4 separate regions of the Homo sapiens genome follow, and regions 1, 2 and 4 are each linked to region 3. Evidence: fine-mapped expression QTL. A gene starts in region 3. Each other region holds a variant in brackets. All regions are shown on one strand. Distances are from middle to middle.

Region 1 (8,110 bases), 53 kb after region 3:
GCCAGAGTAGAGATCCTCATTTTATCTCCACTTAATTCACCAGTCTGGACCCCTCCAGAAATTAGATGGATCTCCTGGAGCATGAGAGTAGACTACACAAACACAGCTGTAGCTGCTGTGCCAGATGTGGCACCTGTGCTAGAGCAGGTGAACATGGCTTTGGGTACACAGCATGGAGCCAGCCATTTCTATCAGAAAAAAAGATCAGAAGCCAGGTGTAGTGGCTCACACTTACAGTCCCCACTGCTCAGGAGGCTGAGGCAGGAGTATCACGTGAGCCCAGGAGTTAGAAGCCACAGTGAGCTATGATTGTACCACTGAACTCCAGCCTGGGCTATAGAGCTAGATCCTGTCTCTTAAAAAAGAAAAGACCAGAAACAGTTTAGTTTCATGTGAAATAGGCAACAGAGCTATAGTTTTCTCCAGGGCTGTGTTAGTTCTCACTCTTGTAATATAGTCTGAGGAAATTTGGGCTTTCTGAGTATCTCGCTGGACCTCATATTGATCCACTACATTGATGACATGGCGCTAAATGGCTGAATGATCAAGAACCAGCTAGCATCTGCTCCAGAGGTGGGAGGTAAGCCCTAGGAAGATTCAGAAGCTCAACATCAGCGAAAATTTTAAAGATCCAATGATGATGGGCATGCTAGCATATCCCACCCAAAGTGAAAGACAGATATTACATCTTGCGCTCCCCATTAGGAAAAAGGAAGCACAATTCCTTGTAGACCTCTTTAGGTTCTGAAGTCAGCACATTTCACACTTGGGAATGCGGCTCCGGTCCATGTGCTGGGTGTCTTGAAAATTACCATCATTGAGGGAACCCAGAGCAGAAAAGGGTTCTACAGTAACTCCTGAACATTTGAGCCAGTGACCCAGAAGACCGTATGATGTTTGAGTACCGGTGGTGGGAAAATATGTCATGTTAGTTTATGGTGAGTCCCAGTGGGACAATCGTTATGCAGATCCCAGATTTCTGGAACAAAGCCATGCCATCTGCAAGGAAGAATTATTTGCCTTTTGAAAAACTCTAGTGTGCTACTGGGCCGTAATAAATATGGAACTTGCCTCTGAGATACCAAGGGTGATGGTTAATTTTATATGCCAACTTGGCCCGGCGACAATGTCCAGATATTTGGGCAAACATCAGTCTAGATGTTGCTTTGAAGCTATTTTTTAGATATGATGGACACTTAAATCAGTAGACTTTGAGTAAAGCAGATTACCCCCATAATATGGGTGGGCCTCATCCAATCAGTTGAAGACCTTAAGGGAAAAGTTGGAGGTCCCCTGAGGAGGAAGAAATTCTGCATTCACACTGTCTTTGGATTTAAGATTGCACAAGATTGCAACATCAGCTTTTCCGTGTGTTTCTGAGAGCCTGCCGGCCTGCTCTGTAAATTCTGGTGGTGCCTGCTCACACAGTCACATGAGCCAATTCCTTACAATAAATCTCTCTATTTCCCCACTCTGTCTGTGTGTGTGTGTGTGTCCATCTATGGGTCTGTTTCTCTGGAGAACCCTAACTAATGCACCAAGTGACCCTGCATCCAGAACACGCATCATCATGAACTGGGTTTTGTCAAACCCAGTGGTCCCCAATCTTTTTGGCACCATGGGCCAGTTTCATGGAAGCCAATTTTCCCACAGATGGGGTGAGGGGGATGGTTTCAGGATGATGCAAGTGTATTACATTTATTGTGCACTTTATTTCCATTATTATTCCATTGCAATATATAATAAAATAATGGTACGACTCACCATAATGTAGAATTGGCAGGAGCCCTGAGCTACTAGATGCAACTAGATGGTCCCATCTGGGGGTGATGGGAGACAGTGACACATCATCAGGCATTAGATTCTCATAAGGAACATGCAACCTAGATCCCTTGCATGCACAGTTCACAATAGGGTTCACACTCCTATGAGAACCTAATGCCGCTGCTGATCTGACAGGAGGTGGAGCTCAGGAGGTAATGCAAGCAGTATGTAGTGCAAGCCAAAAATGGTCAGCAGCTGCTCTACACATCCCCTCAGGGGTGGCCTTGAAAGATAGTGGTCAGGGAAAAATTCTTCCAATGGAAAGAGTTCAAGAGATGAATCTGGTCACCCACTTTGTATGGACGAAAGAAATGGCCCAAAGTTATAGATTCATTGGCAGTGGCAAATGGCCTGGCTGGCTGATCAGGGGCCTAGAAGAAGAAAGATTGGGAAATTGGAATCAAATTGTCTTAGGGTAGAAAGTGTGAGAATAGATATTATAGCAAGCGTGAAGTACGAAGATCTTTGATCACATGTTAATGCCCACCAGGAAGCACATAGTACAGAAATAGTATGAAGCAATTAGGTGGGCAGGGTGACTCAGCAGGTAGAGGTCATCCAGCCTCTAAGGCTCTCTCTGTTCATTCTTCCCACAAGAAGTCATTTGATTATTTCAGACTAAGCAAATGCTCAGTGAACCACACCCCTGGTAATTACGGACAACCACCAACTTTGGCATTTACAGCCAAGTTTCATGGAAATATCTGAGCACTCAAAGCAGGAGGAGGCAGCCAGGAGACAGATCTGGAGGCCCTGCTAGGATTGTGACTCTTCACAACTATGTGCTCATTCTTCTTCCATGCCTACACTTCACCTGGAATTAACTCTTCCCTGGGCAGCTAACACTAGCATGCATTGACCCAAATGAATGTGGTGGTATTGTCACCCCCAGATGAGCTACTAGTTGCTTCAGATCCAACCATCTTTTATCCATGTCTACTTAGCAAGGACTCCAACCAGAGGCTGCACTGGGACCCTCTCAAAGAAGCTCAAACCCATATCATTGGAAGGAGTCAGGCTGCCATTTTCCTCTGTAGAAGGTCTATATCCCAGCTTGGTAATAAAGCCACCTCCATTGGGGAAACATGAGAGAGTCCAGCTGGTGTGGTAGCCCCAGTAAATTGCTGAAACCCTCAATGGCTTCACCAAATTTTTACTACCATTTCACAGCAATAGCAAGATACTAAGGAGGAAAGATCTAGTAGTTACCTAGGAATATGTATCTGGACTTCAGGAGAGTATCTGAGAATTATCAGCAGATCTGTAGTTCATGCATCCATTCATTTGACCATCTATTAAACATCTACTATGTATCAGGCACTCTGCAAGATGCTAAGAATTTGCCAGTGAATAAGATAGATCGGGTCTCCATTGTCCTGAAATTCAGAGTCTGGTGGGATGTGGAAGTGTAAATTGAAGCCCTGGGTACAGGTCATCTTTCCAAAGGTGTGAAGAAACACTAAGCTTTAGGGCACATTCTGGAATGCAAGAGAGAGAAGAGGAACTAACAAAGGAAATGGAGAAAGAGGAAGTATGTGGAAAACTGGAGGAGCATAACATTTAGTTTAACTTGTGAGAGTTTCAAAAAGAAGAGAGAATGTAAAATATCATCTGCTGCTAAAAAGCAAGAATAAGACTGACGGGAAAAAGTGCAGTATAGTAGTGTTAAGTACATGGACTCTAGTTTCAGAAAAGCCTAACTTTGAGTCCTACCTCCACCATTTATTGGTAATGTGACCTTGGTCAAATCTCCTTTAGTGGGGACAAAAATGCCTCCTTTAAGGGTTGTTTAAATAAAATAATATATGCAAAGTGTCAAGTATACTGCCTAATAAACAGTAGTTTGTTTTTTAAATTTTGTTTTCTGTTTCACTCTTGAATTTGGCAAAAAGGAGAATTGGTGTACTCTAAGAAATTTGCCTAAAGTTCTTTAACTTTAAAATCCAACACGCGCTTTCTCATATAACCTTCCAGTGTTTGTTAATCTCAGACTAACAGTCTTCCACTCTGTGTCCCTCTGATAAGATGTAGAAAGGGCACAATCAAAGGGGACTTTAGTTATAACAAATTAGGGCTACAATTTGGTGTTCAGATGCCTCTACCTATTAATTTAGAGAATGCGGTCCGTCACACAGTT[G/T]GAAATTTAAACGAAGTATATATCTTGGTTCTCACAATTCAGAATGTGGGGCTGAGCTGGACTCTGTCTGTCCCACAGTGTAGCAGTCAGATAAATCAAGCATCAGATTCAACCCAACTCAGAAGTCTTAAGTTGGAATCTGTTTCTCCCACAGTCAGTGTAACATTCAAATAAATCAAGCATCAGATTCAACCCAACTCAGAAGTCTAATTTGGAATCTGTCTCTCCCATAATCAGTGTAACATTCAAATAAATCAAGCATCAGATTCAACCCAACTCAGAAGTCTGCAAAATATTTCCTCTTGCCTTTAATTGGACTTTCAAGACAAGGACAGTAGCAATCTTAGAAAGTTCCAACCAACCTAGATCCAACAGCATAGATTGCCCGGCCTGGGGAAGACAACTGAAAAATGAAAGCCAGATGTTAGGGGGTTAAGGAGAAGACCTTGAGGAGCCACATAGACTACTCCTTGAAGAAGTTTGGAAATGAAAAGACAGACACGGGAAATTCTGTCTACGCCACTATCAATTTCAACTGAAGCCTAGATCAATTATTTCAAGTAAGTCCTGTTTGATGAGCTGGTTTCTCAAGCAAGCATTCTGTCTCAGCTGTACCCCAAGGCCTGGCTTTCTCATGTTCCATAAGCAGAGAGGATCATAAATCCTGCTGAGATGTCAGTAGGGAAGACTCCGCTTTCTAGCATGCCCAGCCTGCAGATAATGATCTTGACTAGAAAAGTGTAAGGTGGTTAAGAGCAGTTAAGGCACCAGGTCACACTGTACTTATTCTGGGAAAAGATCACTCTCTCTGTGCCTGGGCATAGGCAAACCAAGAAATCACTGGAAGTCTCATTCTCTCCAAGAACATCAGGTATGATATCAGGCCCCACTCTGGAATGCAGGTAGGGCAGCATCTAGGTTAGTCTGTGTGGATTTGGCCTTCCTAGATCACTGACAGTTTATGGATTAGTCTTATGGTCAGGTAATTTTCTTCAAAAAGGGATCAGTCAGTGACAAGGGGCGAAGGCTCTGGTTTGGCTCAAAAATCTAAGGACCTCCCCACAGCCCAGATCTGTTATAGAGCACCTTCTATTACACCCCAGTTGTTTTTAACTCTGACCCAATATACACAAACTTCTCTGACCCTCATGAACTGGTGGAGACCAGACTTTCCATTTCTGCCCCTCTCACTTCCAACTCCTGCCTCTGTTTGCTGAAGTGGCTCTACCAGCTGATGTCCACGTAGCTGGACTTTCCTTTGGCCCATTGTGTGTTCATATGCACCAGCCAGGGGGGTTATGGGGACTTCCAGAATGCTCTTCCCAATAGTCGGAAAGCATGATGGCCAAGTGTTTATGAGGATATCTTGCTGATGGATTTTAAAGTCCCTGAAAGCTTAAGATCCAAATTCTAAGTTACCCTACATATTAGTCTCATTGACATACAAAGAAATTTCAAGGGGAGCCCTGCCTCCTGAGTTCATTGGCACCTGGTGTAGGTCACTGGCTGGCCTGTGACAGGTAAGCCTCTCCAAGTGACATGATTGGGTTTTCTCACAGATTTCCATTATTGGATTTAAATTTAAACAAAATATTCTGGGCCAGGCATGATGGTGTGTGTCTGTAGTCCTAGCTACTTTGAAGGCTAAGGCAGGAGGATCACTGGAACCCAGGAGTTCAAGGTCACAGTGAGCTATGATTGTACCATTGCACTCCAACTTGGGTGACAGAGCAAGACTCTGTCTATAAACAAACAAACAAATAAATAAATAAACAAAAATGTTCTGACATAAGGTTCACCAAGTGGGGTGGACAGAAATAAATCAGACCATTTGACTTTTGTTCATTCGTTCAGCACATACTTGCTGAGTATGCTGGACTCTGTGCTAAGTGCTCCAAGTGCAGCATAAGCAAACCAGTCAGGTTCCTGCCCTCATAGATCTGGAAGAAGTTAGTAAAATAACCTTAGAAGTAAGTGAAAAAGTAGAAGTGCTACAAGAGAGAACTATGAGGTGCTATGAGAATGTACTATCAAGAAGTTGGACCTGGTTTTGGTGGTATAAATAGTGGACTTAAGGAAGGGATATCTTAAAGTTTAATGGCCAAGAACACAGGAGACATTGGCAATACCTTATATTTGGCAGCCTTACAAAAGTCTTAGCTATGGTCAGCCTCCTCTATTCCTCTTACATTGCTTTATGTTTCCCTCTGGATAGAAAGGGAAAAGTAGAAAGTATCCATATAGGTTTAGGGGACAGGGTTTGGTTAATAAGTAATCCAATAAGAGAACATGATTTGCTAATTTACTAAATTCAAGGACAACTATGTTAACTGCCACTTCCTTTTATTTATTATCATTATTATTATTATTATTATTATTATTTTTATTTTTGAGATGGAGTCTCACTCTGTCGCCCAGGCTGTAGTGCAGTGGCGCCATCTCGGCTCACCGCAAGCTCCGCCTCCCGGGTTCACGCCATTCTCCTGCCTCAGCCTCCCGAGTAGCTGGGACTACAGGCGCCCGCCACCACGTGCCCGACTAATTTTTTGTATTTTTAGTAGAGACGGGATTTCACCGTGTTAGCCAGGATGGTCTTGATCTCCTGAGCTCGTGATCCACCCGCCTCAGCCTCCCAAAGTGCTGGGATTACGGGCGTGAACCACCGCGCCCGGCATTAACTGCCACTTTCTAAATGAAAAACTCTCAGGTAGAACTATCTGAAATTTACTATATTTAACTTTTTGCCTCATAAAAGCAGCAATTTCATCTGGTTCAGGCTAACCATATAGAGACTTCTGATAAAAAAAAAAAAAAAAAAAACCTTAAAGTGCTGATGCTGAAGAACAAGACTGACCTTAAACCATAGAACAAGGGACCATGCCAAAACAGGCTTTTTTTCCTTTATCTTTTTTTTTTCTTTAATACAGGGGTCAGTAAAACTCTGTGGAAACAAAAAGGTGTAGCAGAAAGACCACTAGATGGGTGTCAGGAAACTTTGACTCTAACCCCAGCAAGGCCACTCGCATTTTCTCTGTGATTTTGTGTAAGTTGCTTTCTGTCTCTGAGGCAATAGTTCCTCATCTGTGAAACTATAGGGCTTGACCTATGATATTTAAGGCTCCGTTCTTTCAAGACTCTTCTTGCTCCTTGCTACTGTAAGACAGTAAGACTTAGAGTAACACAGCTCTATAATCCCCAGCTTAGAATACAGCCATTTCTCATTTCCGATCCCTCGCCATATGGACAGGTGCAACCAAATGACAATACGGCCCTTATCTGCCTGTCAATCACATGTGCTAGTCTCCATGTGGACCAAGACAGAGATAGGATTCACCTTGTTGATCAGATGATTTGTGAGCTACTGCTTTATCCAGAGTATGTATTACATGTTGAAATTGTAAACATTCAGTAGGAAATCATTTTGAGGACATTACCCAAAGCATCAGAAGAAGAATTGATCTAACTACAGGCTAAAGCAAATCCAAATAATTACTACTCATTTTGGTTTTTGCCCTTCTTGAACATAGAGATGGTATTGCTCAGCACTTAGAAACTGAATCCAAACAGCTGGGGAGGGAATGCTTTCTGAAGTCCAGTTGGGCTGCCAGCACAGATCATCTCCATTCTGCTGACCAGCAGGACCACGTGCCAGCAGCCAAACCTTTAAGTCTCTCAGCATAAGAGCAAGTGGTAACGCCAGGGGTTTTAAGCCTGCAAAGAGTGATTACCTGAAAGTGAGGTCATGATTCAGGGGTTTGACTGCCAAACACTGCTGACAAAGACACACTCTTTTCCCTGACAGTACAGAATCATATTACTGCACACGCAAGTGTCTCACACCTGGGAAGGATGAAATTACACTGAGCTTAATCCTCCGAAACCAGCCCAACAAGAAGTCACTTAAACATTTAGGATAGGTGTTGTCTCCTGGCAAAGAAAATACTGCAAGGCAACCGGGCAGTTTTTACTAATGAGAAGGGCCTAGACTTGTCAGTTGAAATAATCTTTGACCCTTGATTCCCTTTATTAATTATTCCTTGAGAGGTCTAAACATAGTCTCTCTTAAGTGGGCACTCTGGTCTTTTGCATCCTTATTAACTGAGGAAATCAGCCCTTCAATGAGGTTACATAAGCATATTAAACCAAAGC
Region 2 (8,110 bases), 78 kb before region 3:
AAGACTATTGCCTTTTCCATTCACAAAAAGTTTAAATGTCTACTGAAATACACTATTTGCTGTACATAACTTACTGGAATCTTATTCGTTTTCATATTGGTGAACGTGAGCCATGGAGGACTAGTGTTTTGGATGGGAAATTCTATCACTGTTCCTGCATTATCTGACTGAATACATCTACCCCATATATTCATAAGACACCTCATAGCATGGTAACATGCCAACTTTTACCCATTTCCTCCTTCTTTAAAGACACTGACCTAGTGCAGATCCTAATCAACTTATACTTTCATTATGGCAAAATCTTCCAGTTCTTTTCTGATGACTGCTATCCTCTCCCTGTTTTGACCTACTGACTTGCACATTATGGCCAGACTGATAAAAGTAAATCTGCACTGTTACTTCCTTCTTCAAAAATCAGTAAAAGTTTCCCACTAATAGCATCCCATTTAAATTAATGGTTAATTCTTACCGGCCATACACTTGATTCTTTCACTTCTTCACTTCACCTGAGACAAAGTCCATCATAATGCAGTATGTGCGGGACACGTTTTCCTTGAAAACTAAGATTTAAGTGCCAATTTAACTTTTCTCCCACACTTTCACTACAATATATTAACTTACAGCACCACCTATCTTTCAATAAAAGCTTAACCAAGAACTAGATTTACATTTAGCATAATGCCCTTAGGCTGGCTGATACAATTTAGTGTAAAATTAAGTCCAAAGTGCAAAATATTTTTTAAAAATCTAAAAATAAAAGTTTCATTCGACATTATATAAAATACCCATTAAGAGTATATATAAAGTTCTCAGTAATGTTTAAAACCAAGGACTCTGGCCAGTCGTATACCAATGACTTAAATTTAGCACAAAATAGTGAATGTAACTAAAAATTGCAATCAGCGAGCAGAGCCAGTTTGACTTATAAATTCTAATATTCATTGATATTTTCACATCCAAGTGTTAACTGGAATGTGTGTTGCCTTTTCCTTAGAAGTACTCCCAATATTTTGGTCATTTTTTCTGTTCAAACAAGAAACAAAAATGAAGAGGCAGAAATTTTTTTTATATCCTCTCAGTGTGATACCTATCTATTTTAAATAAATTAGTAGTATAATGTGGAAGGGGCCTGGTAGTGTAGCACACAGTTCAAACCAAGTATACCATACTCCTTTCTCAGTGTTATTCTTTGATCTCAAACTACAACAAAATTCTTTTTAGAAATGAAAACTTCCTTAATCTAAACCACCTCATCAGTATAGAAATACCAGAGACAATATTTTTGGTCAGAATGAACAAGCATTTGTACCAGAAGCTGAGAAGTCAAACCATGAGAGGCAGGTGATTATATGAAAAGCCTGGTTGTGAGGTCCATGAATTAAAACATCTTAAATTTATACAGCGATTTCCCTTGTACAGTTCAACTCTCTAAGGCAGGCTGAGTAAATATTAATGCCCATTTCACCTATAGGGAAACAGATGCACTACTGCTTATGTACGTCAGTTCATGAAAAGCAGAACTCTGAGTCAGGCTTATTTATGGCTGCCTCATCATGTTCTGTTCCTCAGATATAAAAATTAAAATGAACAAACAAACAACAACCACAACAAAAACAACGGCCTAGCACAGTAGCTCATGCCTGTGTAATCCCAGCACTTTGCGAGGCCAAGGTGGGTCGACTACTTGAGCCCAGGAGTTTGGGACCAGCCTGAGCAACATGGCAAGACCCTGTCTCTAAAAAAAAAAAATAGAAAAATTAGCCAGGCATGATGGTGCATGCCTTTAGTCCTTAGCTACTCGGGAGGCTGAGGGAGGAGGATCACTTGAGCCTAGGAGGTCGAGGTTGCAGTGATCTGTGATCCCAGCACTGCACTACAGCCTGGGCCACAGAGCAAGACCCCATCTCAAGAAAAAGTAGTAATAATAATAATAATTTCGATTAAAACTGACCTTGGAAATAATGTAACATAAAAATTATTTTGAAAATAGCCTTTGGTTATAATTTTCAGTGTAACTGTTAATATGACAAAAGTTTTGAAGACTATTTTTTTTAAATGGCTTGTTAAACTGAGTTGGATAGTTGGATTAAGCATTTTCTTAACAATTAATACACCAGGGTGCTAATTATTTTAGAAGGCTCTTCTGTTAGGGTTTATAATTCATCATGTCATACCATACAACTTGTACTATATTAGCCTTTCTTCTATTGATTCATGTCAGCTGACACTAACATAAACCTTTTTGTGACAAGTTAATTAAATTACCATTCATTACCATCCAACTTAAATATAGTTATCTTGACAGTTATAGCAGAGCTGCCAAAAGAGAGAAACAAACTCTTCTAAACTTTATAATAATTAGTGAAAATTTCATATTAGTGAAATAAAAAGGATAGTTCTCATCTGTTTGGCTTCATAAGTCTTCTATTCTCTTTCCAAAGTTTTACATTTCCTATCAGTTACTTTCCTAATGTCATACTAATTTTAAATTCCGTCTTTTCTCCTGTAGAGCCCTTTTAAAGGTGTTCTAGAAAAACTACTAATCAACTTCAAGGTTTATTGAACTTTTGTGTTTTAACATTTAAAATACAATAGAAATGTTTATATTTTCTCACATTTTACTGCACAATACAAAACTGATTTAAATGCATTAAGAAACAACATTTTGTTTTTAAATAAACACTAACAAAATGTTTGGCAAGAGATAACACAATTTATTTAAATATATTCCGACTCAAGATGAAGGCAAGCGGTTTACCTAGAAAGGTTTACATATTTTAGCTATAGTTTTTCATTGAACCATTTTTTTGAAATGTCATTCTTTTCATTCATGCTTCTTTTATCCTCTTGCTTTAGAAGTTCACAGTGTTATATAAGTGAAAAACAAGACAGATAGAAACCACCCTAAACATATGGCTTTATGTACATAAAAAATTCAATAATGTTGCCATAACCCCTAATACAGTGTGATCCTTATTTATTTATTATCCAGAATAAACTTCTGTACCTATTAAATTCTTCAAGTATATCTAGAGCAGTGCTTGTAAAAGTGAGGTCCCACTGCTAAGTTAATGGCCATCTCTTTGAAGATCACTTCTACCTTCAACATAATTATGGTACAGTTCTAATAGTTTTTTTAATTTTACATGTATCATACATTCTCAAATATTCCAAAATGCTCAAATGAGCCAAACATATACTTTGATTTACATCTAGTTTAATATTCCCTTTATACAGCACCAGAGGTTAAAAATGGATCTGAGTAACCAAATATTCTCTTTCCTTTATTAGTTAGAGTTTATCATCATTTATTTCTATAACATTAAACCCAAATTGAAGATGAAGACACCCTGGGTCAAATGCTTTCACCTTAAATAAA[T/C]AAACATTTCATCCACTTCATACTTAAATACCAAGTTGTTTTCCTATAACATATGTTTCTTGGTAACAACTACTGAATCAACTAAGCTGAACACCAACTTCTTATCTTTGAGGACTAGGCAAGTCGGATAGGATTCTCTAGGTTTGCTTTAAAACTTTTAAGAAACCTGGTTGCCAGTTCGTCATCAACCACTCGACTGTCACTTGACATTGTGACTGTTATGAGCTGGCGCTGCTGCAGTTTGGCATTTCCCTCTTCATCCTCAGTGAGCTTCAGCACAGGTCGGAACCTCCCAACCGCCAAAATGCAGGCCTGAGGAGGGTTAATCACTGCAGTAAATTCGTCGATGCCAAACATCCCCAAGTTGGAAATACTAGGGGGAAAAGAAAAAGCTCTGAAGGAGGCATGTCCTTAATCAAAGTCCCCTTTCCGTGAAGCACATATTTTATATATTTTACTAGGCAGTGTAGTAAGGCAAGAAAAAAATATATGAGTAATGAAAAAAGGAAACATTTAGTATTTACAAATAAATTAATTGTGTACACAGGAAAAATGAGACTATAGATAACTAGTAAAATTAATAAGTAAATTTAGTTAAGTCATCAGATAAAAGGTCAATATAACAATCCATTTTATATCGAGTCATGTCCCACATAACGAAGGATCACATATACAACGGTGGTCTTATAAGATTATAATGGAGCTCAGGAATTTCTGCTGCCTAGTGGCATCATAGCTGTCATAACATCATATTGCAATTACTTTATTTTAAAAATAAATTTAGTGTAGCCTAAGTGTGCAGTGTTTATAAAGTCTACAGTAGTGTATAGTGATGTCCTAAGCATTCACTCATTCACTGATTCTTCCAGAGCAACTTCTAGTCTTGCAAGCTCCATTCACGGTAAGTGCCCTAAACAGGTGTACCATGTTTTACTTTTTACATTTTTACTGTACATTTTAAAAATGCTTAGATATGTTTAGATACCCAAATACTCATCATTGTGTCACAACTGCTTACGGTATTCAGTAGAGTAACATGCTGTATAGGTTTGCAGTCTAGGAGCAACTGGCTATATCATACAGCTAAGGTGTGTAGCAGCATGTACCATTTAGGTTTGTGTAAGTACACTCTATGATGTTTGCATGATTTGCGTAAGTACACTCTATGATGTTTGCATGATGAAACTGCCTAACAATGCATTTCTCATATCCCCATCATAAAGTGGCACATGACTCTACATACAAGTTGCTATAATTAGAAAATAAAAATTTAAAACAATACCATTTATAATAGTATCAAAAAACAAATACCAAAGAATAAATCTAATGAAACATATACAAGACCTCTACACAGAAAATTATAAAACATAACTGAAAGAAATCAAATAACTGAATACACAATGGTTTCTACCATATTCACAGGTTAGAATACTCAATACTGTAAGGATGTCAATTCTCAAATCATCAAAAGACTTAATGCAATCCCAATCAAGAAACCAGCAAGGGGTGTGTGTGTGAAAAATGGCAAATCAATTTTACAATTTATTTGGAAATACGAAAAGCCAGAAGACAATCTTGAGGGTGAACAAAATTGGAAGACTTCATTACCAGCTATCAAGAGTTATAGCTTGGTGGTAGTAAACAAAGGATAGACAAACAGGCCAGTGGAAAAAAAATAGCACAGAACTAGACCAACACATATATAATCACCTTTTCAATGCTATGAAAAAGGAGAAATCAATATTCAATACATGATGCTGTGTAAATTTAGTATCCATATGGGGAAAAAAGAGCACTTGAAACTTCACATTATATACAAAATCCAATTTCAGTTGAATTGTGATCTACATGTGAAAAGTAACGTAAATGCTTTTAGAAGATAACACAGAAGAGTAACTTCATGACTCTGAGATAGGCAAAAATTCCTAACAGAAAATGAACAGTACCAACTACAAAGAAAAATACTGATAAATAGGAATTCATTAAAACTCAGAACTTCCGTTCATTTAAAAAAATCACCGAGAGAGTCCCAAAGGCAAGTCACAGAGTGTGAAAGCTATTTGAAACAATATATATCCTATAAAGGTCTGTATATCCAGAAATAAGAACTATACATCATTTTTTTAAATGGACACCAGATTGCAGTGGGTACTTTATCTCATGAATTACCAGATACCCAAACGGCTGATGAGTGAAAAGTACTCAACATCACTAATTTGCATTTTCCTACAAAGAGTACCACTACACACCCCAAGAATTGTTAAAATTTAAAACCTAACATTATTAAATAGTGGCAAGAATGTGGAGCAATGGGAATTCTCAGGACCGTTGGTGGAGGTGTAAATTTGTATAACCATTTGGAAAATTGTTTGGTAGTAGCTGCTAAAGCTTCTAACTTAGGAATTCTACTTTTAGGTCTATACAACAAAAAATGTACATACATTCACTATAAGACACTAATAAGAATGTTCATAGCACCATAATTTGTAATAGCCCCGAACTGGAAGCAACGCAAATGCCCACCAACAGTAAAATGAATTCTGGTATATTTATACAATAGAATATTATATGCTGCAATAATAAATAAGTGGTTGTTTCACATAGCAATATAATATTACAGACATTAATATTGGGGGTGGGTCAGATACTAAAGAATACATAATATTTATCATTCCATGTTAGTCAATGTCCAACGAACGTTTAGTTCAACACTAATAGGTTCCTACTAGCTTTAATATGAAAGCCTGACTAGTCTGAAGAATTTTTTCAGATATTCTATTGTCTAAATAAAGTATTTTTAGCTTAAATTTTAAAAAATATTTCAGATAAATGAAAGGCTGACAGGGACTTTATAAGTCTTACATCTATCTGTTTGATGCTATGGATAATTAAGAGTTTAAATTTTACCTAAAAGATCCTCCTTGGTATTCTTCAGGCAACAATTTTCCATCTCTTGCTTTCTTTGATAGAGCCTGAGAAAAATACAAACAGAATAGGACAACCAACAAAATGTTATACAGTTGATCTTGTCACTTGAAATATTTGTACATCATATACTCTCATCTCTGATATGCCTTGATTTGATTTTGTTACCTATATAAAAATAATTTTCTCTAATTATAAGAACAAACAAGAGCACAGATAATTCAAGAAACTAAAGCTGTTAATCAAAACTCTAGAAAAATCACTTCCTTTAACAATTTTTCAAATGTGGGAATTACCCTGTGTACCATCAATTATTATGCAAAATGCTTTAGAGTTTCCTATATGCAAAATGAAATTTTCTATTTTGCCTATAAAACTTTATGGTAAGAAAAAAAATACAAGAATCCATTCTGGTCAATCTAGTGTTTTTTAGTTTTTTTTTTTTTTTTTTTTTTGAGAAGTCTCACTCTGTTGCCCTGGCTGGAGTGCAGTGGTGTGATTATGGCCTATTGCAACCTCCATCTCCCAGGTTCAAGCAATTCTCTTGCCTCAGCGTCCTGAGTAGCTGAGATTTCAGGCACCCACCGCCACGCCCAGCTAATTTTTTATATTTTTAGTAGAGATGGGGTTTCACCATGTTGGTCAGGCTGGTCTCCAACTCCTGAACTCAAGTGATCCACCCACCTCGGCCTCCCAAAGTGGTGGGATTACAGGTATGAGCCACCATGCCTGGCCAATCTGTGTGTTTTAAATAAATTATCCAATGGCAACCAAAGTAGTATACCCACAATCCCACAACCAACATTCCGTTTTTATCTTTCAGAGTTTGCTTCATCTTTATCCACAATCTCAACCCCACACAATGGTTATAAAAAATAAATTTTATATTTAATTGTTCAATATTATATGTATCTTCTGTGTTGTCAGCCTTCAGAAATGATTTTTTAATGTTTGTTCCTAAAGACTGCACCTGCCTAATTTACTTGGTTATTTCCCAGTGTTATAATTTGGTTCACGGTTTCTTCTGAATTATTTCAGGTAAATTTTCAGAAGTGGAATTATAGTGCCCTAGAGAATAGACTTCTTTTGGTTCTTGATCCTATAGCTAAATCATTTCCTGAATGAGCTAGTCCAATTTACACTGCCACAAGGAATATAAGGATGTACTTGATTCATATCACTCTTGACCACAGCGATTTCTAAAAATCTTACAGAAGACAAGACAGATGACATATTAGTTAAATTTTCCTCTCACTTGTACTTGGAATTAACCACATTTCTGTTAATTTTTATTTTTCAGTGCTTAAAAGCAAGGGAACAGAGGTTGAGTCATCATATATAAAAAATTAATAACGAATTAACTTAAGAGGAAGGGTACAGAAAAATGAGGTCACTGTCATTTGGGTAGATAAAATAAATGTGGAATTTACTTAATATTTTGTATTACATAGGCAACATAGGCACTATTACAATCACAGTTGATAACTAACTTTAATTCATAGATGATTTAATTTTTTAAAATTGAAAGTCTTTAAAAATATCAAAAATCTAAAAACACATTACTGTAACGTACTGCCAACAGAAACAATTACAGGTGTATGCTATTTGGATGTGGTTATTTATAAAACTATTTGGATTCAAGGTAAAAAATGAGATGAATTTTGACTTATACAGTTCTTGGAATAACGGGAGAGAGAATAATCTATAAAAGCATTTTTCCTCCCTTAAGCAATGTAATTGTTCACATGATTTGAAAAGACACATATATGAACTTTAAAAGGCATTTTTTAAAGGCAGATGATC
Region 3 (8,110 bases):
AGAAGTTCCCTCTCTCCTGGTTATAGCACTGCTGTCAAAAACTCAGATGCCTACAAAAAACAGGCAGGTGAGAGAAGAGGACTAGCATCTTCAGGTTTTTTCTTTAGATTCTGACATCCTTTATTTTCATATTAAATGGATAAGCATTTTCCTCCTTTACACATATACACAATATCTGCTTTCTCCCATTTTTCTTGGTCTTTTGTCTTCTGCCTTCCGTAGAGATAAGAGTACAAGAAAAAAAAATGACAACTAGAGGTGATGCAAATACCAAGGGACATTCAGCCTTGCTAAGATGTAATACAGAGTAGGCGGCATAGTGACAAAGTAGGAAGCAATTTCCTACCTAAAAAGAACAATCATTACTCAGTGTTAGATAATTGTCACCACATAGGATTTAACTATCAATTTTAAAGAGAGAACAAAAATCTAGATTTCTCTGTAAAGTCTCCTGATTTTAAAATTTTGCCATAAGTTTTTCTGCTAAAACAATGTGGGTCAGTTCCCTGGCTGCCAACTTGGAATCCTACTGTAGGCTCTAGTGTTCTTTTATAACTTCCTAGATTACTAGCTTCCTTAGATATGTTTATTGAACATCTATAATATGTATTGCCTATAATTATATACTAGGCAAATCGCCACCAAGATTGAACCTCAGTTACTTTTCTATTCACAGGTTATTTTAAATTCAACATGTTATTCTTCAGAGACAACTTAAAACCAATACTATTAATTAACATCTTACCAATTATATTCCAAATCATGCTACCTACTCTGAAAGGACCACAATTTAAACTCTCTGAAGTTAACTGTCTAGAGTAGGTTGAAAAACTGTTTACAGATGCTGTGTCAATTATATAATGATCACTCTGGTCTCTGGGTCTTTGTTTCTGCTGTTCCTTCAGCCTGTAAGGGCTGTCACCTCTTCCTCTAAGAAGCTGCCTTATATATTATTTCCTGATCATTTCAAACTTACCCCCTCTGAGCTTACTGTATACACTATTGAAATCATACCTTTATTGTTTATGTCCCCAAAGAGACTACAAATACCTTAAGGATCAGCCCTATATAGAATTTTGGATTGCATGTCCAGGAGCTAAGTATGATTAAATGTGCCATGTGGCAAATACTGAGAATCTGTTTGATTCAGCTGGCCACTACTTCCCAAGCAGGGTACCATGTGCCTGGCACCTAATAGATGCTAATTTCTTCACTCATTCTTCAATAATGTAAGTGGTAAAAAAGATAGTCTCTGCATTCTCAATAAATCTGTTGAGAGAATGATACAAATTAAAGATTTGTTAAACAAATTAATATATGTATATAAATATATACATGCACTTCAGTTCATCAACACAGTTACATGTCTTTAGGAGACTCAATTTCTCTAAGCCTTGGTGTTTTTGTCCAACTAAATGCAGATGATGCCAACTTTACTAGGTTATGTGAGAAGTGAATGAGAAATTCTAGAAAGTGCTAAGAAAATGGCATATGTCATAGCTCATAAAAATGCTGCCAGCACCTCTTAAGGAAATTAAAACTCCAAAGGTAGTTCCGACTGACAAATTTTTAAAGATATTTGTGTGAAAGACGAAACAGTTCAATAAATGTACTTAATTTATATAGTTTACAGTAATCCAAATAGTTGTTTAGTTTTATAAAACTACAGTTTCTACCAAGCTCAGAGAAAAAACACCACCGTAAATTCACAGTTTGTAAAACAAATAGTTCAAGGATTGCCACGTGTTTTCGGCATGGCAAAACAAAAATCTGTATGTAGGTGAAAGTCAGAAGCGGATATATTTTGGCTCGGTATTAGGAAAAAAGTCCAACACTTCCAAATACTTAGTATTTCCAAATACTTTCCACAGCTTCACATGCAGAATGCCATGCCTCAAAAGGTTCACGTCCTAATACCCAGAACCTATGAATATGCTGTTACATGGCAAGAGGGAATTAAGGTTAAAGATGGAATTAAGGTTTCTACTCAACCTTGAGATGGGGAAAATATTCAGGATCATCCAGATGAGCCCAATGTAATCACAAGGGTCCTTGTAAGTGGCAGAAGGCAGAGGGGAGTATTAAGAGTGACGTAATGTGATAAAGACTGAACCAGCCATTGCTGACTTTGAAGCCCATGAGTCAAAGAATCTTAGAAACCTCTAGAATCTGGAAAACTTAAGGGAATGGGGTCTCGAGCCTCCAGAAAAGAATGCAGCTCCTACCAATAGCTTGATTTTAGCCTAGTTAGATCCATTTTGGACTTCGGACCTCTAGAACTATGAGATGTGAATTTGTGTTGTTTTAAGCCACTAATTTCTGGTAATTTGTTGCAGCAGCACTAGAAAACTAATTTGGCTTTCCTTGAGATGCCATGCCTTCTTCCTGACAGATGGTATTCAAACTGGGGTAGACAAGTTGTTCATGGTATATGTCTAGGGGATAGGGAATAGGTAAAAAAGCATCATGAGGATGCAGATAAGGATTGCTTGCCTAACTGAGTTTCTAAAGGCATTAAACTGGGCCTATGTATACTTTTTTTTTTTTTTCTCCTGAGACAGGGTCTCACTCTGTCACCCAGGCTAAAGTGCAGCGGCAGGATCATAGCTCAATGAAACGTCTAACTCCTGGGTTCAACGGATCCTCCTGCCTCAGCCCCTGGAGTAGCTGGGATGCCAGCACGCCTGGCTTTTTTTCTTTCTTTTTTTTTTTTTAAGTAGAGACGGGGGTCTCACTTTGTTGCCCGGGCTGGTCTCCAACTCCTGGGCTCTAGCAATCTTCCAGCTTCGCCTCCCAAAGTGCTGGGATTACAGGCGTGAGCCACTACGTGCACATTTTTGTGTGTGACCATTTATGGTACTTCCTCTGTACAGAGAGTCTGTAACATTTTCAAAGATTCTCAAAAGGATCTGCTTGATAAACAAGATTAAGAGCACTCTTCCTAGATTATATCCAATACTAAACTTTTAATATTCCATGATTTTCTAAGGCAGTGAGTCTCAAAGCTCATTCCATTAAATGTCAAAATAAAACATCAAAACTCATCCAACATTTGTAAAATGCAGATTCCTGAGCCCCACACCAGACCAGACCGAATCTCTAGGAGCTGGAAAAAAGTTTAATTTCAACAAACTTGGAGGAGGGAAGAGAAGGAATTCTGCACACACTGTTAAAGCACCTCTGCTCCAAGGAATATGTTATGAAACATTACACCAAAAATGAAATAAATTGTTCCCATTAAGGAACCTTTAGGAACCCCAATACACTCATCTTACCATATGACTTTGTGTGATTTTTTTTTTCTGAGCCTAAGGTAGCTCAGAATATGAAGGCAACGTCTACTAGACCTATTTAAATTAAAATTCATTCTGTAGAGTGCCAGGAACGATGATTGGCAGGTAATACGTCACACTAAAAAACGTCAGTCCTATTCTCCATCCCCGCCTCCCTCCAACCTTCTCCCAAAATAAGGAAAAATAATACCCGGCCTGCCATTTTGCATACTGTTAAATACTGCAAGAATTGTGTTAACTGCATCAATATCATTACTAAACAACAATTTTCTATAATAAATTTTTGGTATGATTTATCTCCTAAATGTTTGCTCTTTCAAGCGAATATTTGCTTGAAACATTCTCCTGGACCTTTGTCTATCGTGATGCCGTAGGAATTTACAAATTTAAGTCTTCCACGAGTCATGGCGTGGGGTAAAACTCGACTGGCCTCAATGAAAACACCTCCTAACAGAGAGAGGCCTAGAGAATAAGTAAGAACTCCCAACAGTGGCTTTTCAATCTCGGCAACCTTGGGCAGCTTTTTCTCGTCCGAGACGTTTGACAACCCTAAAGAAACCTGAGCCTTGATTGGAAAGGGGGCTGAGGGAGGAGAGTTTGGGAACCCTCTCTGCGCCTCACAAATAACCCAAATTCCAAGGCAAGGTCACAAAGCCATACAAACCAGGGGGCCTAGGGCAGAGTCGAGTTCTCTCAGCTGCCAAGAAAGCCCTTCACAGCATGCATTAGGCCAAGTCGGCGGACCCCAACCGGAGAAAGAGGAAAGGGAATAAGGAGCCCGCGCACCTTCACACCCAAAAGCAGGCCCTCAATCATAACTGCCCCTGTCCCAGGCCCATCACTCAGCTACACAGAGAAGCTGAGCGAGCCCCGGCCACTCACCCCGAAGCCACTGCGTGCTGTGAAACCATCTCCAATTAGCTCCGCGGCTTACAGACCACCCAAGAGCCCCCTTCACCAGCCCTACGCTTCGGCGGCCGGGGAAGCCCACAAGATAACGCAGCAGCCGCGGATCACAGCCCAGCCTCCAGGAGGCCGCCATCTTGACGGCCTTCTCACTGGCTGCCCGCAGCACAGCCTGATGTCCAGCATCAAGGCCCCGCCTCCCGCATGGTTGGCCACGCCCCCAGACGCTAGCGGTGCCTTTAGGTCTCTCAGACTTGAACCCCCGCCCCCCAACCCAGCCCCGCCTCCAACCACGTTGGCCTTGCCTCCCGGGAAGTCAGGTGCGCCGCTGGATATCTCAGCCGGCGGGGCCTTACCAGACCCCGGCCCCCGCCCCGTTCGCCCCGCCCCCGGGCTGCCCTCAGCGCCGCCTGATTGCATTTGCGGCCTCGCTGCCGTATCCCAGGCTAAGCGCCGCGCGCAAAGCCGTGCGGAGATTGGAGGCCGCGCGGGTCCCTGGTCTGGGCCATGTCTGGCTGTGATGCTCGGGAGGGAGACTGTTGTTCCCGGAGATGCGGCGCGCAGGTAGGGGCGGGGCCACCGGTGCCCGGTATTCCCAGGAGGAGAGGCCCAGGCGGGACCCGGCGGCTGGAGCTGGGCGCAGGGTAGCGGGCCGGGCGTTTAGCTGCGGGGCGGGGTTTCGGGCCTGGCCGTTCGCTACCCCGGCGCACCGCGACCTTGGCGTTCGGAAGCAAGGCTGCGAGGCCCCAGGAGATCAGTGGTCTCGGGCGGGGCGCTCCGATGGCGGGAGCTGGGCGCCAAACGTTGGAAAGAAGCAAATAACTGAGAGAGGAGAGCGTTTAGGTGACCTCACCGGGTATTTATCAGGAAGGCAGGCCAGAGAAGGAATCGTGAAGCACCGAAGTGGAGCTGGGGCGAAGACCGCGCCCCCCAAGCTTCTTTTCTGCGCCCTGACGACCAGTTAGGCGTTTGGGGGGACGTTTGGCACTCGGGAGACGTTTGCCGAACCGGAGCTGTGCCTCAGCTGCCAGCGCTTTGCCTTTGAGCAGTTGCTCCTTGCCTATCTCCGTTTAGATGAATTGTGGGATGATCATGGGAACGATTCTTCCTTAAGCCGAAGTCAAAGGGAAATCCACCCTCACGCTGCATGTAGTTTTCGGTCATTTACACAAACCAACAGTTTTATGGAGCGCCTTCTACACGCTCAGAGATAGGGATACGTAAGATAAATGGCCCAGGGTCTGGAGAACTAGACGAATAAGCAGTTTCAGCACAATATGATAAACCCCACCTAAGAGGCAGGGAAACCCCTCAAAATTAGTTTCCTTATTCCCCCTATCTTATTCCTCCTATCTATATCTTTCTTAGGGTTGAAAATCCTAATTAAAAAGTAGTAACTCGCGGGAGATTTCATTGCTAAACATTTGTCAACCACTTTCTTGTTTGAATAAGTGACTTCCCCAAATTAGCAAAGACGACTCTGAAAATAGAATGCTGCATAGGCAAGATTGGATGAGAGAGAGAAGATCTTGGAGACAGGACAGGTAACTGGAGATCGTTCCTGGGCAAGTGTGTATGGAGAAGTGTCCGTACCCTCAATCAGTAAATCTTAGTGTAATGTCATCAGAATGAGCATCAAAGAGAGCCTTAAGGGACCCGAGAATAAACTAGGATTCTCAAACCAAACATGGCCCACAGACAGCTTGGTGGACAGGCATGTTTTTTTTTTGCTGCACTCAATGTTCATGAAAAATTTGAGCCAACCTTTTTTTTTTTTTTTTTTTTTTTTTGACACGTTTTGCTCTTGTTGCCCAGGCTGGAGTGCAGTGGCGTGATCTCAGCTCACTGCAACTTCTGCCTCCTTGGTTCAAGCGATTTTCCTGCCTCAGCCTCCCAAGTAGCTGGGATTACAGGCGCATGTCACCACACCCAGTTAATTTTTGTATTTTTAGTAGAGACTGGGTTTCACCATGTTGGCCAGGCTGGTCTCGAACTCGTTATCTCAGGTGATCCACCCCCCTAAGCTGCCCAAAGTGCTGGGATTACAGGTGTAAGCCACCACGCCCTGCCAAGCCAACATTTCAAAATCCAGAATCATTTCAGCTTCTTTTAAAACCTCAGAACACATGGTGACATTGGGCCCTTATTTTTTCATGGGATCTGGATTGCGGTTACTAGTGAACACCACCTTTACAGAGGGTGCTGGCCAGGTTACCACAGCTTCCACTACTCACACTGGATTTGCATATCTAGTTAAATACATGAGCCCCTCTAGATATTTGTATTTGTCTGGTTTTGTACAAATACATAAAAACAGCAATAAGAAAAGTTTTAAGAAGTCATAAAATTTCATTGTAGTTTTAGGGGGTCATGGGCAATGGAAAGAGACAGTCTCTTTGGCCTTAAGGAAGGGGAATGTTCAACTGTAAGTGATTAATTCAACGAATATTTAGTGAGCGCCTACTATGTGCCAGGCATTGTGGATTTATAAGTGCAAGCTGCATCTGGTTCCTTCTCCCCTAGAACATGCTGTACAGTGGAAGAGACAAATTAGCAAAGAGACAAAGATGGTATGACAACATGACATAGTTTGACATATGACGATATGACTTAGATGGGAAAGTTCAAGGTAGTTTAGGAGTATACACTTGAATGGGTTAGAGAATACCTCAGGAAACAGTGAAAGTATCTACTGAGGCCTAAAGGATCAGGAAGACATAACCACATGCAATGAAAGTAAGGATATTCCAAGTAGGGGAAGTAGCATGTACACAATCTCAGGGTTGTCCTTGATTACAGACATGGTGTGTTCCCATATTAAGTTTGGTGTTCTGGAACATAAAGTAGGGGCCAGAGACTTGAGATGAAGCTAAAGAGAAAAGCTAGTGAGAGGTAAAGCCGCTGGGCTTCTGGGTCGGATGGGGACTTGGAGAACTTTTCTGTCTAGCTAAAGGATTGTAAATGCACCAATCGGCGCTCTGTGTCTAGCTAAAGGTTTGTAAACCCACCAATCAGCTCTTTGTAAAATGGACCAATCAGCAGGATGTGGGTGGGGCCAAATAAGGGAATAAAAGCTGGCCACCAGAGCCAGCAGCGGCAACCCCCCTCGGTCACCTTCCAGGCTGTGGAAGCTTTGTTTTTTCGCTCTTCACAATAAATCTTGCTGCTGCTCACTCTATGGGTCCGCACTACCTTTATGAGCTGTAACACTCCCTGCGAAGGTCTGCGGCTTCATTCCTGAAGTCAGCGAGACCATGAACCCACCGGGAGGAACGAACAACCTGCGTGCCACCTTTAAGAGCTGTAACACTCACTGTGAAAGTCTGCAGCTTCACTCCTGAAGTCAGCAAGACCACGAACCCACCAGAAGGAAGAAACTCTGAACATCTGAACGAACAAACTCCGTACACACCATCTTTAAGAACTGTAACACTCACCGCAAGGGTCCGCGGCTTCATTCTTGAAGTCAGTGAGACCAAGAACCCACGGGAAGGAACCAATTCTGGACAAACTAGGACCAGACCTAAAGGGCCTGTTAAGCAAATCTTAGATTTTTAAACTAAGGGCAATGAGATAATCAGCAGGATGACTGAAGAAGGCCTGGGGATTGCTGGCTAGAGTTAAAAAGACCAGAGGCATGGAGACAGACTAGGAAGCCGTGGCAGGCATCCAAGCAAGAGATGCTGTAGGTCTGAGTGAGGGAGTAAAATCAGGAGGTCTTGGTTATTGATTAGATGTGTGTAGTGAGAAAAGAAGTCAAGAATGACTTTTAGGCTTCTGATCTAGTGATTGGGGCCTGGTGGTCCACCAGAAAGAGAATACAGGAGGAAGAAACAGTTTATGATGGGTGTGTTGTGGACATGTTGAGTTTGAGGTACAGCCTCAGCATGTGGTACTATACACTGAGTGTA
Region 4 (8,110 bases), 35 kb after region 3:
AAGCTTTTTTCTATTTTAATTTTTTTTAACTTTTTAAATTTTTTTTGTTAAAATCTGAGACACAAACACATATATTAGCCTAGGAGTACACAGGGTCAGGGTCATCAATATCACTGCCTTCCACCTCCACACCTTGTCTCAGTGGAAGGTCTTCAGGGGCAAGTAACATGCATGGAGCTGTCATCTCCTGTGATAACTAACAGTGCCTTCTTCCGGAATACCTCCTGAAGGACCTGCCCGAGGCTGCTTTACAGTTAACTTTTTAAAAACCATATAAGTAGAAGGAGTACACCCTAAAATAGTGTTTTAAAATTATAGAGTAATAAATACATAAACTACTAACATAGTCATTATCATCACGTATTACATACTGTAATAATTGTATGTGCTGTACTTTTATACAGCTAGCAGCACAGTAGGTTTGTTTACACCAGCATCACCACAGACATTTGCATAATATGTTGTGCTGTGACCCTATGACAGCTATGCGGTCATTAGGCGATAGGAGTTGTTGAGAGCCAAAAAGGCCAAAGGGATCGTGATCAACTCAGCATTCCACTGGAGGCTATATGATCAAACAGCAAACTGTTTATCATGAATGCAGGATGTGAGCAAACTCACACTGCGCCTGCCACCAAAAGGTTTGCTGAGGGACATCACTCCCTGGCACCGGGCTCCTTGAAGTTATCCATTGAGAAATCTAGAGCCTATTGTTCAAAGGATGCAGTCTTGCAAGCCTGCTGTGAACCAAAGTGGCCGACTGACAATTGCCCGACAATTGCCCCCCATTTCTCGTTATCTCTTTTACCAATAAATACGGAGGGCTGTGTACAGCTCGGGGCCCTTGTCCACTAGAGGCAAGGTGCCCCCGACCTCTTCTTCCAAACGTACTCTCTTGTTTTTATCTTTTATTCCCACGTTCGCCCCCTTTGTTCAGTCCACCAGGTCTGTGCAGGTATAATGGAGTTTTTCAGCTCCATTATAATCTTATAGGACCACCATCATATCTGTGGTCTGACATTGATGTATATGTATATACCTATATATGTGTATATATATACCTTTATATGTATAGTTATATGTATATATATACACCTATATATGTATAGTTATATATACATGTATAACTATACATATATAATATACATATATAGTTATATAGGTATATATATACATATATAGTTATACATGTATACCTATACATATATAGGTATACATTATATAGGTATATATAATATATATAATATACATGTATACTATGTATACATATATTATAGTTGTATAATGTATACATATACATAACTTTATATTATAATTGTACTCCCTTTCAGAAGCAATGTCTCTATGGTACAGTGAAAACAATACTCTTTGAGGGTCAAAGGGCTATCCTGGCTCTCTTTCTCATTTAACTTGTCTGGATCAGTGTCATGTTTGTAAAGTGGGAGGACTGGCTTGAATTCGCTTTCAGTTCTTACTTTGCTGTGAAATTATTTTGCTCCTGAAAATATTTCTGACTATTGAGTGCATGCTAGAGAAAAATATGTTTATGGTTCTCTCGGCCAATATTAGGAAAGATTTGAGACTAGCAATTCATTCCTTCAATATTTAAGGATACTTTTTTCTTTTTTTTTTGAGACTAAGTCTGGCTCTGTCGCCAAGGCTAGAGTGTAGTGTCTCGATCTTGTCTTATGCAACCTCCGCCTCCCAGGCTCAAGCCATTCTCTCACCTCAGTCTTCCGAGTAGGTGGGACTACAGGCATGCACCACCATACCTGGCTGATTTTTGTATTTTTTGTACAGATGGGGTTTCACCATGTTGGCCAGGCTGGTTTTAAATTCATGAGCTCAAACAGTCCATCTGCCTTGGCTTCCCAAAGTGCTGGGATTATAGCTATGAGCCAATGCACCTAGCCATAGTTAAGGATAGTCTATAATTACCTCTGTTTTACTTAAGTGAAGTGATGGGCAACTCTATACTCTTAATGATAATGGTTGGCCAAGTTATCAGTCACATGATGACTACTTAGTCTGTGCTTGCCCTACAGTAGCAATTGCAGAATACTTTAGCTAGAACTTTTTTTTTTAAGTTTTTAGCACTATAGAAGTAGTGAAAAAGCAGATGTTACATTAACAAAACAAGAGAAATTCATGTAAAAAGGAAAGCTTATCTGAGTTTTTGCAAGAATAGACTTAATTTTGCCAGTGACAATTATGTGTTTAAATATTACATTCTGATTTCATCACATGTATTTCCTGAGAGGACAGTGGAAGTAAAAGAAGTTCTAATGCTACAGATTTGAGAATGTTCTGAAAGCGTCGTACCTTTAAGAGTTATCTCCAGAACATTCTTGCTGTCCTAGTGCCACAAACCATGCTTGTGTTTTTTGATTTGCCTATCTCAGATACTTTGGGATTCTGCAGAAATGAAATACAGTGATTTTGTATTAATTGGGAAATTCTTAATATATAATTCAATTTTTAATCTTTTCTATGCTTCTGATTCTGAAATATATCATTTGCCATCTCCTTGTATAAATATTATGATTGTCCCTGCTTCAAGGAAACATTTATATGATCTTGATGATTTCTTTGTTAGGTTTTGGTATATTTTACAAATTTCCACCACTTAGGCTTAGGATTAGACCAAGCCTGCCACATTCCCAAGGTACCTTTTGATAGAGATGTTTATACAAGGTACACAGAATAACACGCAACATCCTGTTCATAATTTGGAGTGGCTTTTCAGACACAAACAGCATGTCTAACTGGTTACTTGAAAAAATTACATGTTGTATACATATCAATGCTTGATTTGTTTTAATGGAAAAAAATGGCTTGTTTTGTCTTACAGATATGATGATATGTTAGTGGTACCCATTATTGAGAATACACCTGAGGAGAAAGACCTCAAAGATAGAATGGCTCATGCAATGAATGAATACCCAGACTCCTGTGCAGTACTGGTCAGACGTCATGGAGTATATGTGTGGGGGGAAACATGGGAGAAGGCCAAAACCATGTGAGTGTAAATCAGAGAACATGGGGAACAAGTTACCACCCGCTAAATGTGAAGGAAAACAAAGTATGTCAGTTGGTTTAAATTTAAATTGTTTATCATTATTTGTAGATACTTTATTTTTATTATGTATCCATTCATGAAGAAGTATTGATTGGATGAGCTGTTGTTTGGCAAGGCTCTAGGAATGTTGATAGAGGAAGAAGACACAGATCCCAAGTTACAAAAGTTCTATTTCAGAAAGTGACATCTAGTTTAAAAAAAATGTAAATTTATGTAGGCAGTATATTTTAAACTCTCTTTTATTTCCTGAGAGGTATGTAATATTGTTGCATGACTTAATATGATTCCTTTCTGTGTTTTAAAAATGTTGAGGGAAAAATAGAATTTTGGCCTAGAATTGAGAGAAAATACATACTAGGAACAAAGCAGAGTTAACTGCAAGAGAGGAGAAATGTGATTCTTTAGGATTGGAGAACTCTGTTTCGATAAACACTGGTTCTTTTTGCTTTTTCTTTTACAGGTGTGAGTGTTATGACTATTTATTTGATATTGCCGTATCAATGAAGAAAGTAGGACTTGATCCTTCACAGCTCCCAGTTGGAGAAAATGGAATTGTCTAAGCCAAAAGAAAGTCTAATTATATACAGAGATAAAGCTAAACGTAATTATTATTTAAATGAAAGCTATTTTTTTAAATGAATTGAAATTTTTCATGATGCTACTAATTTGCCACTAAATACTGCAAATGGTCACCCTGAATCTCTTCTGACATTGGATGTTATTTGCTTATATTCTTATAATTTTAAATGAGGGCACAGTGAAATGAAAATTTTATACTCTATGTTTCTGTTTATTTTTAAATCCTTAACAGCAAAATATTTGCCTTTAATTTCTTTTTTATATATACTCTCAGAGAATTCCTCTTAATTTTTAAAGATGCTGGTGATAATAAAATTCATTAGAAAATTTCCTCATTGTGGAATGAGCATTCTCTTGTTTTAATGTTGGTGTCAGAAAATAAATATGAAACATTAAGTCCAAATTTATCCCTCAATGTTAATGTCAAAATAATTTTATAGATTTCCCCTATTAGCTTTAGTGTTTCCCTGTGGTCTACAACAGGACACTCATTTTATATTGGGATCAGTTGTGAAATTCAGGTCAGGTGGTATCAACTCAAATTCCCTTAACCAAACAAATCTTGATCAAACCGATGATGTAATCAGAAAGTCCTTTCTTTAAAATTGTTTTAAATTTTAGGTTTGGGGGCCCACATGAAGGTTTGTTACATAGACAAACACATGTCACAGGGGTTTGTTGTACATATTATTACATCACCCGGGTATTAAGTTCAGTATCCAATAGTTATCTTTTATGCTCTTCTTCCTCCTCCCACCCTCCGCCATCAAGTAGACCCCAGTGTCTGTTGTTTCCTTCTTTGTAGTCATAAGTTATTGCCATTTAGCTCCCACTTAGAAGTGAGAACATGCAGTATTTGGTTTTCTGTTACTGTGTTAGTTTGCTAAGAATAATAGCCTCCAGCTCCATCCATGTTCCCGCAAAAGACATAATCTTGTTCTTTTCTATGGCTGCATAATATTCCATGGTGTATATGTACCATATTTTCCTTATCCATTCTGTCACTGATGGGCATTTAGGTTGATTCCGTGTCTTTACTCTTGTGAATAGTGCTGCAGTGAACATTTGTGTGCATGTGTCGTTATGGTAGAATGCTTTATATTCCTTCAGGTATATACCCAGTAATAATAGGATTGCTGGGTCAAATGGTTGTTCTGCTTTTAGCTCTTTGAGGAATTGCCATACTGCTTTCCACAATGTTTGAACTAATTTGCACTCCTACCAACACTATGTAAGGGTTCCCTTTTCCCTGCAACCTTGCCTGTATCTGGGTTTGTTTGTTTTTTCTTTTTTTTTTTTTTTTTTTTT[TG/G]TGACAGTCTTGCTCTGTCACCCAGGCTGGAGTGCAGTAGCACCATCTTGGCTTACTGCAACCTCCATCTCCTGGGTTCAAGCGATTCTCCTGCCTCAGCCTCCCAAGTAGCTGGGATCACAGGCATGCTACCACCCCCGGCTAATTTTTGTATTTTAGTAGAGACAGGGTTTCGCCATGTTGGCCAGACTGGTCTCAAACTCCTGGCCTCAAATGATCCGCCCACCTCGGCCTCCCAAAGTGCTGTGATTACAGGCATGAGCCACTGCCCCCAGCCTGTTTTCTGGATTCTTGGCGGAGGTTCTTCCACTGGGGAAAAATAGTTTTAGCCACCTCTGGTTAATTTCATTTTCCTCATTTTAAAATGCAGCTAATGAATAAGATAAAGTATGTGGAGGAACAAACCACAATGCTTAATCCAGTGTAGATGTTCAATAAATATTAGTGTTTTTTAAAATCCCTTTTAATCCTCATAATAGTCTTTTGAGATAGATATTGTACCTATTTTCTTAGATGAGAAAATTGAGGCTCAGATAGGAATAATAAATATGTAGAATTTAAATAAGAGAAAACAGGTAAACTTCTTAACACAGTACCTGTCATATACTATGTATGCACTCAAAATATAAACTTCCTTTCCTAAAAACCCCTCACCTAGCTATCTTCAAAGTAATTGTCATGCAGGTAAACCATTTAAACTATACAGCAGCAGCAGCACATCTCCAGTTGTATATTTCTTTCCTGGGAGTGCAGAAAAGATTGCAAAACCTGCTTTAGAGGTAGGGGAACAGCTGGTGGAAGGCTGTATCCCCTAGTTAATATCCTTTTTTTTTAAGAATATGATCCCTCCTGTGTGACTGCTAGGAGCCAAGGTCCAAAGATGAATACAAATCCAGGCTGGGAGCTAATCCTCAGTGCCTGCCACATAGGTGTTCAGTGAATGAGGGAGGGGGAAGCAGGCATTCTTCTTCACATGCCCTTGTGATTGTTGTTCTCTCAGTTATTCCAGCTTCTTTAAATAAGAGGAAAATTTGGTTATGAATGCAGGATTAAACTGCTAAGAGATCTAGATCAAACACATTTTTTATTTCATTAAGTGCAGGACATGCCATTCACTCTCAGATTGAATAAGGGACTATCATTTGTTTCTCAAATGATTCTAGAGGCTTTTGGTCCCACCCAACTTTCTTGTGAGAGATACTTCAAAATAACATAGTTCCCTAGAGAATGTCCCAAAATCCGAAAGGTAAAGTCATAATCTTAAGGAGTGTTTCATTTTATATCTCAATTTGTTCAAATACCTCCCTTTTGAGAAAATTTTGCCATGTCTCATCAGCAGTTCTAGTCAAGATGGTCAGATGTGGAACTAATAATGTTGACATCACTATTCAAGAGGCAATTTGAATTCTCCCACCAAGTTTCTTTAAAGCAGGACTACAAGGCCCAGCACAGTGGCTCACGCCTGTAATCCCAGCACTTTGGGAGGCTGAAGTAGGCGGATCACCTGAGGTCAGGAGTTTCGAGATCAGCCTGGCCAACATGGTGAAACCCCATCTCTACTAAAAATATTTTAAAAATTAGCCAGGCATGGTGGCAGGCACCTGTAGTCCCCTCTACTTCGGAGGCTGAGGCACAAGAATCACTTGAACCAGGGAGGTGGAGAGTGCAGTGAGCTGAGATCGCACCACTGCACTCCAGCTTGGGTGACAGAGCAAGACTCTATCTCAAAAAACAAAACAAAACAAAACAGATTTTGGTTTCCATTTCACTGATCTGTAATTTATAAGCACTGAATCACCAAGTTTTGGATAATAATCACTGAAATGGGTATTCTTTTGTGGTCTTAAGTTATAAACACAAATATGCTCTTAAAGTATATTTGGCTTCTGATATGAGTATTAGGGACTTAGGGTTCTAACAAATTTTAATATGTTCTACTATTTTATTCATACTTTTAGTAAGTACCTTTTACTTTTCCTACTTCATTATTGCAATAAGGACCACATCTTTGGAGATGAAACCAGGAAAATTTATATATATATATACAGTAGAGCTTTGAAAGTTAAGTAAAAATTTCCAGTAGTCAAAATTATCATAAAAAATCCTTTAAAATAACCCATCAAATATAGTGCTGTATATGTGATTTGTGAACTTAAGATTATTTCATTTATTCAGTAGTGTTTATCCACGTCCTCAAATAATCATGTTTTGTTTCTTTTGAGGATGTTGATCAAGTCATCACCAGCCTTTTATCTTGAACAATGTGTTTTAAATCATCTGCAAATTTTTCCATTGGTTTCACAATTGTTCATTGTCAGTTTCAGGTTTAATTGCATCTATTGCTTTTAATACAAGCAAAGGAAAAGTACTATTTTCCTGGTATACAATCCCTTTAGGTTAACTTTAAAATAACTCAATACATTGTGATTGGAACCCACTAGACAGTTAGGATCTGTTCTCTTTACTCATGCATGGTTAAACTTTTCTGTTAATAAACATGTCTTTCCCATGCTCTAAACATAAAAGTGTTATATGTGTATAATCTTATGCTCATTTAGGCTTGCATTGTTTGATAAAAACTGGGTGAAAAGCAAAATACCCTAGACACCACCCCCACCAAAAAAAACTACATTAGTGTAAGGAGTAAACTTATGAAACAGTAAGTTGTGCTGTGTTGGTGTCAAATGCTCCTAGTCAAAGCCTTGATGACCATCTGTAAGCTTATCTGTTTGATATAAATGATCTAAAGGACACCCAAAGAAGGTTCCAACAGGCAAGAGAATGGAGTAGGCATCCTCAGGGTGCTGAATATTTCTGCCCATGGCTGGGTAGGAAATCTTTATCCCTCAAGGGATATTACTGTAAACCTTCGTTAGCAAGTAAATATCAATAAATGTTGAATGAATGACTCTTGGTTCTCCAGCAATATTAAATGGGATTGAGGAGTAAAAAGAAGTGTCTATGTAACCTCCTCCAAATTCCATTGTAAGAGAATTGAGCCTAAGAAGAATGAATGCCATGTTAACTTTTATGTTATGGGGCATAATTGGTTATTGTTGTTAATGGAGTAGGACTGAGAAAGTCTTAAATTCCTGTTTGGGACAGAATAGAAGGGGTGGTTAATAATGGATGGGGTGGTTAAT

Which allele goes with the higher level. Alleles are on the strand shown, and positions count from the first base shown. SD is a standard deviation of normalised expression in the study named. Not every link is listed here.
For the expression in iPS cells of the gene that starts at base 4,373 in region 3, TG is the high allele of the variant in region 4 and G is the other (moderate effect, 0.71 SD a copy in PhLiPS).

Evidence for each region.
Region 1: its variant is fine-mapped to the expression of PDHX in nasal epithelium (TOPMed, PIP above 0.99).
Region 2: its variant is fine-mapped to the expression of PDHX in whole blood (TOPMed, PIP above 0.99). The same link has a PIP of 0.9 or more in fibroblasts.
Region 4: its variant is fine-mapped to the expression of PDHX in iPS cells (PhLiPS, PIP 0.95).

The regions. Positions count from the first base shown.
Region 1 is chr11:34,859,815-34,867,924 of GRCh38, reverse strand. All of the region lies in intron 6 of LOC102723568 (a long non-coding RNA gene), which reads right to left. All of the region lies in intron 1 of LOC105376624 (a long non-coding RNA gene), which reads left to right. Among named protein-coding and RNA genes, the nearest start is that of APIP, 53 kb to the left of the region's middle. The variant G/T (reference allele first, on the strand shown) is at 3,962.
Region 2 is chr11:34,990,559-34,998,668 of GRCh38, reverse strand. It overlaps PDHX (pyruvate dehydrogenase complex component X), which reads right to left. Exons shown (of 11, transcript NM_003477.3): 10 at 6,290-6,354; 11 at 2,541-3,755. The coding sequence ends at 3,497. Among named protein-coding and RNA genes, the nearest start is that of MIR1343, 53 kb to the right of the region's middle. The variant T/C (reference allele first, on the strand shown) is at 3,383.
Region 3 is chr11:34,912,881-34,920,990 of GRCh38, reverse strand. It overlaps PDHX (pyruvate dehydrogenase complex component X), which reads right to left and starts at 4,373. Exons shown (of 11, transcript NM_003477.3): 1 at 4,176-4,373. The coding sequence starts at 4,335. APIP (APAF1 interacting protein) reads left to right here and starts at 4,612. Exons shown (of 7, transcript NM_015957.4): 1 at 4,612-4,763. The coding sequence starts at 4,707. RefSeq lists an enhancer at 4,072-4,371 and silencers at 4,542-4,591, 4,612-4,951.
Region 4 is chr11:34,878,246-34,886,355 of GRCh38, reverse strand. It overlaps APIP (APAF1 interacting protein), which reads left to right. Exons shown (of 7, transcript NM_015957.4): 6 at 2,852-3,019; 7 at 3,540-4,061. The coding sequence ends at 3,639. Among named protein-coding and RNA genes, the nearest start is that of APIP, 34 kb to the left of the region's middle. The variant TG/G (reference allele first, on the strand shown) is at 4,967.